Regions from separate parts of the Homo sapiens genome. Here all the other regions are linked to region 3. The links come from fine-mapping of genetic effects on gene expression. A gene starts in region 3. Each other region holds a variant in brackets. All regions are shown on one strand. Distances are from middle to middle.

What was found. PIP is the estimated chance that this variant, and not a neighbour inherited with it, causes the effect.
Region 1: its variant is fine-mapped to the expression of GALNT3 in subcutaneous fat (GTEx, PIP above 0.99). The same link has a PIP of 0.9 or more in cerebellar hemisphere, cerebellum, prefrontal cortex, sun-exposed skin and tibial nerve.
Region 2: its variant is fine-mapped to the expression of GALNT3 in whole blood (TOPMed, PIP 0.97).

The regions. Positions count from the first base shown.
Region 1 is chr2:165,856,380-165,859,144 of GRCh38, forward strand. LOC100506124 (a long non-coding RNA gene) reads right to left here. Exons shown (of 4, transcript NR_045375.2): 3 at 1,836-2,025; 4 at 1,096-1,235. Among named protein-coding and RNA genes, the nearest start is that of GALNT3, 64 kb to the left of the region's middle. The variant G/A (reference allele first, on the strand shown) is at 1,206.
Region 2 is chr2:165,570,664-165,573,428 of GRCh38, forward strand. All of the region lies in intron 3 of CSRNP3 (cysteine and serine rich nuclear protein 3), which reads left to right. Among named protein-coding and RNA genes, the nearest start is that of CSRNP3, 100 kb to the left of the region's middle. The variant TA/T (reference allele first, on the strand shown) is at 1,491.
Region 3 is chr2:165,793,036-165,795,800 of GRCh38, forward strand. It overlaps GALNT3 (polypeptide N-acetylgalactosaminyltransferase 3), which reads right to left and starts at 1,212. Exons shown (of 11, transcript NM_004482.4): 1 at 980-1,212. LOC124906086 reads left to right here and starts at 551. Exons shown (of 6, transcript XM_047446887.1): 1 at 551-757; 2 at 884-1,302; 3 at 1,765-2,044. The coding sequence starts at 551. RefSeq lists enhancers at 1-868, 869-1,774 and silencers at 845-934, 1,005-1,154.

The DNA of each region.
Region 1 (2,765 bases), 63 kb after region 3:
CCAGGCACAGTGGCTCATGAGGGTAATCCGAGAACTGGGAGGCTGAGATGGGAGGACTGTTGGAGCCCAGGAGTTCAAGATCAGCCTGGGCAACATAGTGAGACTCTATCTCTTCAAGCAATAAAAAAATTAGCTGGGTGTGGTGGGTGCACGCCTGTAGTCCCAGCTACTTGTGGGGCTGAGGTATGGGGATCACTTGAGCCTGGGAGGTCGAGGCTGCAGTGAGCCATGATCACGCCACTGCACCCCACCCTGGGTGACAGAGCAAGACCCTGTCTAAAACAAACAAACAAACAAACAAAAAACAAATCCCAGTCAAGTTAGTATGACTTTAAAGCCAGTGCTTCTCATTATAACATTCTATAGGCTGGGGCCAGAATTTGTGGCTACAGTCTAATAAGTCAAAGGTAAAACAGAGATACCAGCAATCCCTATGCACTCTCCTAATTGAATTTCCTAATTGCAGACTAGAAATCAGGTTCTCTGATTTCTAGGAAGTGGGCCTCCGATTATATCAGACCCTGTAGTCAGCAGAATAATGCCCGCATCCCCACTGAAGATGTCCACATCCTAATCCCTAAAACCTGTGAATGTGTTAACTTACATGGCAAAAGGAACTTTGCAGATGTGATTAAGTTAGGGATCTTGAGCATATGCTGCATTATCCATGTAGGCCCAAATATAATCACAAGGGTCCTTATTAGGGAGAGAGGGAGGCAGGAAAGTTAGAGAAGGAAACATGATGACAGAAGTAGAGGTCACAGTGATGTGATCATGAGACAAAGAATGCAGGCAGGCCTTAGAAGCCAGAAAAGTCAAGGAACAGAGCCTTCCCTACAGCTTGCAGAAGGAAGGGAGCTCTGTTGCCCCTTGGTCTTAGCTCTAAGACCCATTTTGAACATCTGACCTCCAGAAGTGTAAGAAAATAAATTTGTGATGTTTGAAGCCTCAAGGTTTGTGGTAATTTTTTATAGCAGCAATAGGAAAGTAAAAGACCCCTAAAGCAGTGTTTCAGCCCTGGCATTATGGCATCACCCATGTGGCTCTGAGATGTATTGGATCCCTAACAGAAAACAGGTAGGACCACCAGAACAATTTAATGAAGACTTCTCAGTTGTATTATATTTTTAAAAATTTAAAATGAACTTGTATATGTGGAAGGATTGATGATCTGTACTGACTCCAGATGGTTATGTTCTCCTGAT[G/A]ACAGATGGAAGTCCAGGAGGCGGGGCCATCTACAGGAAAGCAGGAGAGAAATGATTGATATAGGAAGCCAGTACAATCCAGGAACTCTTTATACAAGCACAATTTTTACTTTTCTGATTCTCCGGTAGTATTTTTTGAATTATGGAAGGAGATGAACATTCCTATTTTTTTAATATGGAACTAGCTGTACTGTTGTTTCTCTTTCCTTGCTGTGCTAGAAGAGTCTGGAGTTTAAGCTCTTCTTGTATTTGAGCAAAAGTTAATGTTTTTAAATTCTTTTTGTTGATTAGACATTTGGGTCTGATGGATCACTAAGGTTTATTATAAAAAAGTTTGAAGTTCAAGGATATTTCTTCTTTTTTACATTAGTTGTAAGGAAAAGGACAAAATGCCTTGGAGAGAAGCCAGAACAAGAGAATTTGGAGCATCAACAAAATATGTTGAACATAAACAAGAGAGTAGAGTTTCACTCTAGGCAAGAAAGTGGTTCTCCCAGGGGGATGAACTAGAAAAAGGGAGAGGAAAGTATCATGTGTATATGAGTAGGAAGATGAAGGAAACAGGGAAGGGGGAGGTAGTTATAGTTAAGCAGATCGGATCTTAAGCAACTTTGCCAATGATATTCTTACCCCAAGTGTATGCCAGCAAGATATGGTTCTACTGCTGGTGACCTCATAGAAGCAGAGTCATCACTGGAGAAAGACATAGCTCTCATCCTGATGGGCATCTCCTGCCCCTGAGGCCTCAGTTAGCTGCACTTGCCTTCTGCATCTCCTGGGGATTTCACTCCATCAGTTAGCATCTTGTTTACTGCCTTCCCTAAAGAAGTGATATGTATTAATATTAGTCTGTTATAACATCGCTATAAAGATACCAAAGACTGGGTAATTTATAGTGAAAAGAGGTTTAATTCACTGAAAGTTCTACATGGCCAGGGGGCCTTCAAAATTTACAATAATGGTGGAAGGCAAAGGGTAAGCAAGCTACCTCCTTCACAAGGCAGCAGGAGAGACAGCAAGAAAGCAGGGGAAATGCCAGACACTTATCAAACAACCAGATATTGTGAGAACTCCCTCACTATCACAAGAACAGCCTGGGAGAAACCACCCCATGATTCAATCACCTCCCAACAGGTCCCTCCCTTGATATGTGGGGATTATAATTTGAGATGAGATTTGGGTGGGGACACAGAGCCAAACCATATCATGATGCCTATCCATTTCTTTGAATTTTGTTTGATTCCTGACTGACTTATTCTTACCTCACAATGCCCCAGGATATATGTGAGCCCAAGAAAATGGGATTAAAGTCAGAGAGACTTAGTAGCGTGGCCTAATGAAAAATCCTTGGGGCTAACTGGAGCCAAACTGATTTGATACCTTCCCAGCATCTCTCCATCTTTTACATGAGCTGGGACCATGGTTAATGGCTCTTTTTATATAATAATTTAAAAATGTGTAAATATAAGGGCCACCTAGCACATAAAGAAGGAATATAAAGGTCAAGGGTCTTGTTGTTTATCAACATGGTCTTTGAGAATTGCTTATACTCAATTTTGA
Region 2 (2,765 bases), 220 kb before region 3:
TATTAACTAGGATGTACATATCTTAAGAACCCAGAAGTATACTATAAGCCCTTTTCTTTTAATGCCCCAAAGTTTTGCAGCTTTAGCATAGCTCTAATGCTGTGCTAAAAATGAACATGAACATTTTGGGACAAATGCATTAAAATGGTGGTATCTAAAACATATATGAATATTTCTTTCAATGTTAAGAAAAACCCATCAAAAGGTATTTATTTAAGTCATAAACATTTATTTAAGTCATAAACATTCTAGATCAATGCTAACCCTACAAATAATATCATAAAGAAAGGTATTAACTCATTGTATTTAAAAGCTAAGCTACTTAACCATACTTACCTATTCTGGTTTTAAATTATTTTTAAAACTTTCAATTGACACACAAAAAATTTTGAGTTATAATATTTTTTGCCCCAAAAGAATTTCTTACTAATGGAAGGCTTAAGCAAATATACATATATATGTATATTCACTTTTTAATTACTGAATTATTTATAAGTGCCGTTAAGTTACTATATATCTAACTACTCAGAAAATTTATTTTCTCATCTGTATTTATAGTGCTTCTGACTTTTCCTTCTGTGTGTGTTCTTTGTTGCACTTCGCATGTATTTGTCATAAGATTTTCACTGAGACTTAAAAGTAACAAGCTTTCAAACATCATTTTAATTTAGACAGTCATTAAAGAGATAAGAAATCGATGTTTTAAAATAAGTTCCAATAACTAAATAGTTCTGTATTTGGAAATCCAAATTCCATTTTCAGTTTTTAAGAAATAATTTTATATATTTAAAAAAATTTTTAGAAAGGCAATCTGACTACACACACATACACACACATATTTGTATATATATTAATGTAATATTTGTGTGGTGGAAAATTCCTGTAAATGTTGGATAGTTTTCCCTGAAACTACTTGTTAACATTGAAATCAGATAAGGTAAATCATATGTTTTATTGAGGTAAGCTGTCTAAAATAAGTTACCGCAATTTTAAAAATTAATAAAAACCATATGTCCTTTAGAACTTAAATTGAAATCTGCATTGTTCCTTTAAGTCAGCTGTTCTAGGAATGTGTCATCTTTTGAAAAGATAAATTAATCATCTACTTCATCTATATACATTAATAAAAAAGATTCACCTTCTCATCTACTTTATCAAAAGTAATTAGTATATCTATTTTTATTCACATATAGTATCTTTTAGTGATTGAGATTTTAATTGAGGATATTTTGAAGGAAACAGCAATTATCTTTTTACAAAAAACAAAACACCAAGAAAAAGAAATGCCAGCAATCTAATGGTTAAAACATATTGCCAAATCATTCAGTAGCGCAAGGCTCTTTAATAACATTTGTACAAAAGTACTTTCAGAAAATATGAGATAGGAAATGGCTTTTTGCAAGTTCTCCTTCCTTAAATTATTATTCAACCTCTTATTAAAATAAAATCTAGTTAACTTCTTTTGGAGCTTGCTCAAACATTTTCTATAA[TA/T]AAAAAAAATCTTGTGAAGGGATTTCCATAAGTTGTGCTGCATTAATGACTTAGAGCAGCTTCCTTATCTGTTATTCCTTCCTCCTAGTAGACCTCAGATGATAAAAATATCCATAGACACAGTGAAGTCAGTGGCACGCCTGGCTCTCTCAGACAAAACTCCATGTGATCACATATAGGCAGCCTCAGTGAGGCTGATGCCGTGCAGCAAGCAGTAGGTAATGAGTCTTTGTGCAGAGTGAAGCTCTTGTTGCTGAACAATAAAGCATATGGTACAAGCAATAAAACACAGGGCTGGGAAATTTAAGAAGATTCCTCTGAACCAGGAAGAACTGTGTCTTCGGTGATGCTGACACATATGATAAAATGATCATTTATTTTGGATCCTAATGAATAAAGAGTGCAAGGACTAAGACTACAGTTATTTGAACAGGTTGGTGATTTTATAAATTACTCCAACACTTCCTTGTGTTTGACTGGATTTAAATTAGAATGGGCTGGTGTGTTTTGCCTTAAACAAAAACTTTGCAAGATATTTGTAGTGTATAATATTAAGGATGCACTTGAATTGACCCAATGCGATTAAATTGTCGATGTAGTCAGATGTGACAGAGAAATGTTGATATCATTATATTAAACTGAAAAGTTATTTAGTCTATTTTAAAAATTTATGGGTAAGAAATAAATTCATCCAATAATTTTTAATCTCCTGTGTATGCAGAAATAATATAAAAGAGAATACTACTGACAAATAGTTCACATAAAAAGCTTCAAAATTATTTTTCCAGTGTTAAAACAATCTGTATTGCAATAGTTTACATGTCTTATAAATTAGATAATATATCATTCAAAATTTGTTGATGTGTGTTAGTATACTGCAAAAGGAAGGTTTGGAATATTTAATTATTTGAATTAAAAAATTTAAAAACAAGGAAATTTTGAAATGTAAATAACACTATTAGAACAATGTATTTTATACTTTAGTAACACATATCTGTATTTATTTGTTGTGTGCTTTTAATTTTTCATGTTATATTTCTTTTGACACATGAAAAAGATTATTGCACAAAACCTTTTATTTTATAAATATTATTCATTGATATTTAGAGAAAAACAAATTTGCTTAATTTTTAAGAGAAGAGATTATTTGATGATGCATATTTTCATTGGCTTACCATTTAGAAAGATTATGTGTCTTTATGTATATTTATAAAATATGTACACACATGACTTTTTCTATGTAGAAAATAACCACTTCTTCCATTTATGAGCAA
Region 3 (2,765 bases):
GGGTTCTTAAAACAGAAATAGTTTCTTTGATGAGTTGGAAAGAGAAGGAAATAAAAGTCTAAGGTAAGCGCCAGTTTCACCCTCAATTCTTAGGCTTCAGAAAAGCCTAATTAGGCAGGGAAAGGAATCTGGGCCTGGCACACCCAAGCTTAGACGTGGCAGGATCCTGAAACAATGTTTTTTTGAACCTTTGAGTCATATGCCACAGGCAAACCATAGCCGCGATATGCAGGTCCTTAAGTCAACAGGTCCTCTAACGAGATGGTGAGTGGTTGGTGCGTGGCAGTTGGATTTCTTCCCGCCACGGAAGAAAAGAACTCTTCTCCATTGATCAGGAAAGTGGGCCCAACTCTGGCCTGGAGAGCGCACCCGGAAAAGTGCAGAGTCGAAACAGAGAGAGAGGGGTGTCCGCGTCCCGGCCACAGAGCCCTTTCCAAACCACTCGGAAACCATTTAAATGGCTCGGCGGCCGCGGTTTGCAGCCTAGAACTGTTTGGGGTCCCCGGCTAGGAAAGTTGCCTGGCAAAGCCATGTCTTTCGCTGTCGCGGGATGTCCTCTCGGGCAGAGAGGCTGGAGGAGACAGGCAACCTGCTAGCCGGAGTGGAAGCGCGCCCGCCTCCCGCCGGGCCCTCCCTCTCAGGGTCCCCACGCTGCGACCCTCCCAAGGGCAAGTCCGGGGCCACCAGGTCTTTGGTCTCCGTCCAGCTCCTCAGGGGCCGCCCCATAGGGACTGGCGGGGGCACCGTGGGCGAGAGGGTGTGACCGGGCTCCCCCCCGAGGCGCCACCTGCCCCTTGGCCCAGGGCGCCCCTTTCGGGATCTCTCCAGGGGCAACCGACACACTGCTCTCGAGACCGTCTCCAACCGGCCACCTGGACCGTAGCCCTGTCCCCAACACGTGAACCCCTGCGGCCGTCCTCCCGCCTGCTCTAACGCAGCCCAGGGGTACCGCGTCTCCCTCCGCCTGCCGCCGGCTTACCTGGCGGGTGGGCAGGGCAGGGTGGCGGGAAGCGGCGGCCGGGCAGGCGCTGGACGTGGGCTAGGCGCCAGGTGCAGGTGGCGGCGGCTGCGACTCCGGTTGCTGTCGCCACAGTTGCGGCTCAGTAGAGCTCCTCCTCCGCCGCCGCCTCCTGCCTTCCCGCTGGGCCTCCCGCGTTGCCTGGAGAGGCAGAACCGAGGCTCGGCTTCCACTTGGAGTCTCCCAGGTGAGCTCCAGCCTGCGACGTCGGCAGGGGCGAGGCCCCACTTCCGCGCCTGCGCGCCAGCCTCCCGCCCCGCCCCAGCCCTACCTGAGCGCTCCAGGTGAGAACCTTGGATCGCGCGCGCAGGGTGGGGGCGCCGTCCGGGCCAAGCCTGGCTGTCGCGCGGCTTCTCTCTGAGTGGTCGGCGAGGCTGCTGCTCCGCGCAAGTTGTGGCTCCCGGCCCATCTACATTGGAGGAATCCTGCACTGACCTGGTGGCAGTGATCACCTTGTAGCCAGAACACAGTCTGCTGGGTCCTTGGGGAACCAGAAGTTCTAGATTTCCCCCACACGGTTCCTCCCTTCCTCCTCGGTTCGCCAAAATGAAGGGGTGCGCTGCCTCCGAGGACCACTTCGGGAGGGCAGCAACTGCTGGCTCATGTGGTTTCTTCGGGCAGGGTTCAGCAGCTTCTGTCACCAGTTAGGTTTCGTGAGCTTCCTTCCCGTGTAGTCTTGATTTCATCACTTGACTCACTTCAGCGCAGCTAGTGGTTTCCGTTTCTGTACGCGGGCGCTCTGGTAGGGGCGCCTCACGTCCAAAGGAGGAGTCTTCTTCCAAAGAAGAGCCTTTGGTATTTGGCAGAGCCTCGCCAATTTGGGGCGCACCTCCCCTTCCTGGGATGCTCTCAGAAGGCAAACCAATTCCCAGAAGAGAGGGAAAAACAGCCACAACAGAGAGAACCTTTGCTGTCCCTGTTTGGAAAGAGATTGGGATTTCCTGGAGAGGGCTTGCTTCTACTGCAGGTTTGTTTAAAAGCTCAACATCTATTCTGGAAGAGAACAACGCAGACTCCAGGAAGATGGTGGGTTTTGCTGTTTTTAAGACAAAAAAAAATTGTTAAACAGTATTTGTTCCATTTATGACACAACTTTCTGTTTCAGCCTTCCTTCTGCTGCTGCAACAAACATTGACACACCCAAAACCAGGACTTAAAATGGCCTTTATACCTTTCTATGAACTCATTTCTTTGGCCCTATCCCAAAGATATCTAGGGATATAAATAGAAAACTAGCTAAAAACTTTTTGGTGTCGTGTTTAATCACATGGTGGTAGGTTTTACTATGAAGTTTAGTTGTGGCCTTCCTCCTACATTTTGACATGCTCTTATGGTGCTTATTCACTGTTTTATTAGTGCTATGCGTGACCTAAAAATAAGGTTTAAAATACAGTTTAGTATAGTATCAACAAGTGTATCTTTAGTATTTGACTACTCTAAGACATTGGTTTTAGCATCCATAGTGCTATTTTATACTAGGACATCTATGAGTTAGGGTTTAAGACTTTAGTAAACTAGGTAGTTCTTTGCTTGTTTTACATGTCATGGTTATTTTGCGAGCACCAAGGAACCTCCATGTATTTGCAACATTTTAATATCAGTACCTACAAGCAATTGCCAAGCTCCCTTTCCCTCCAAAAACAAACAAACAAAAAAATAGTTCAGGAGATACTTGTGTGTATTGATATACTAACTTGGCAGTGTTTTTCCTTAGGTCCAGGTCCAGAACTGAAAATACTAACTACTG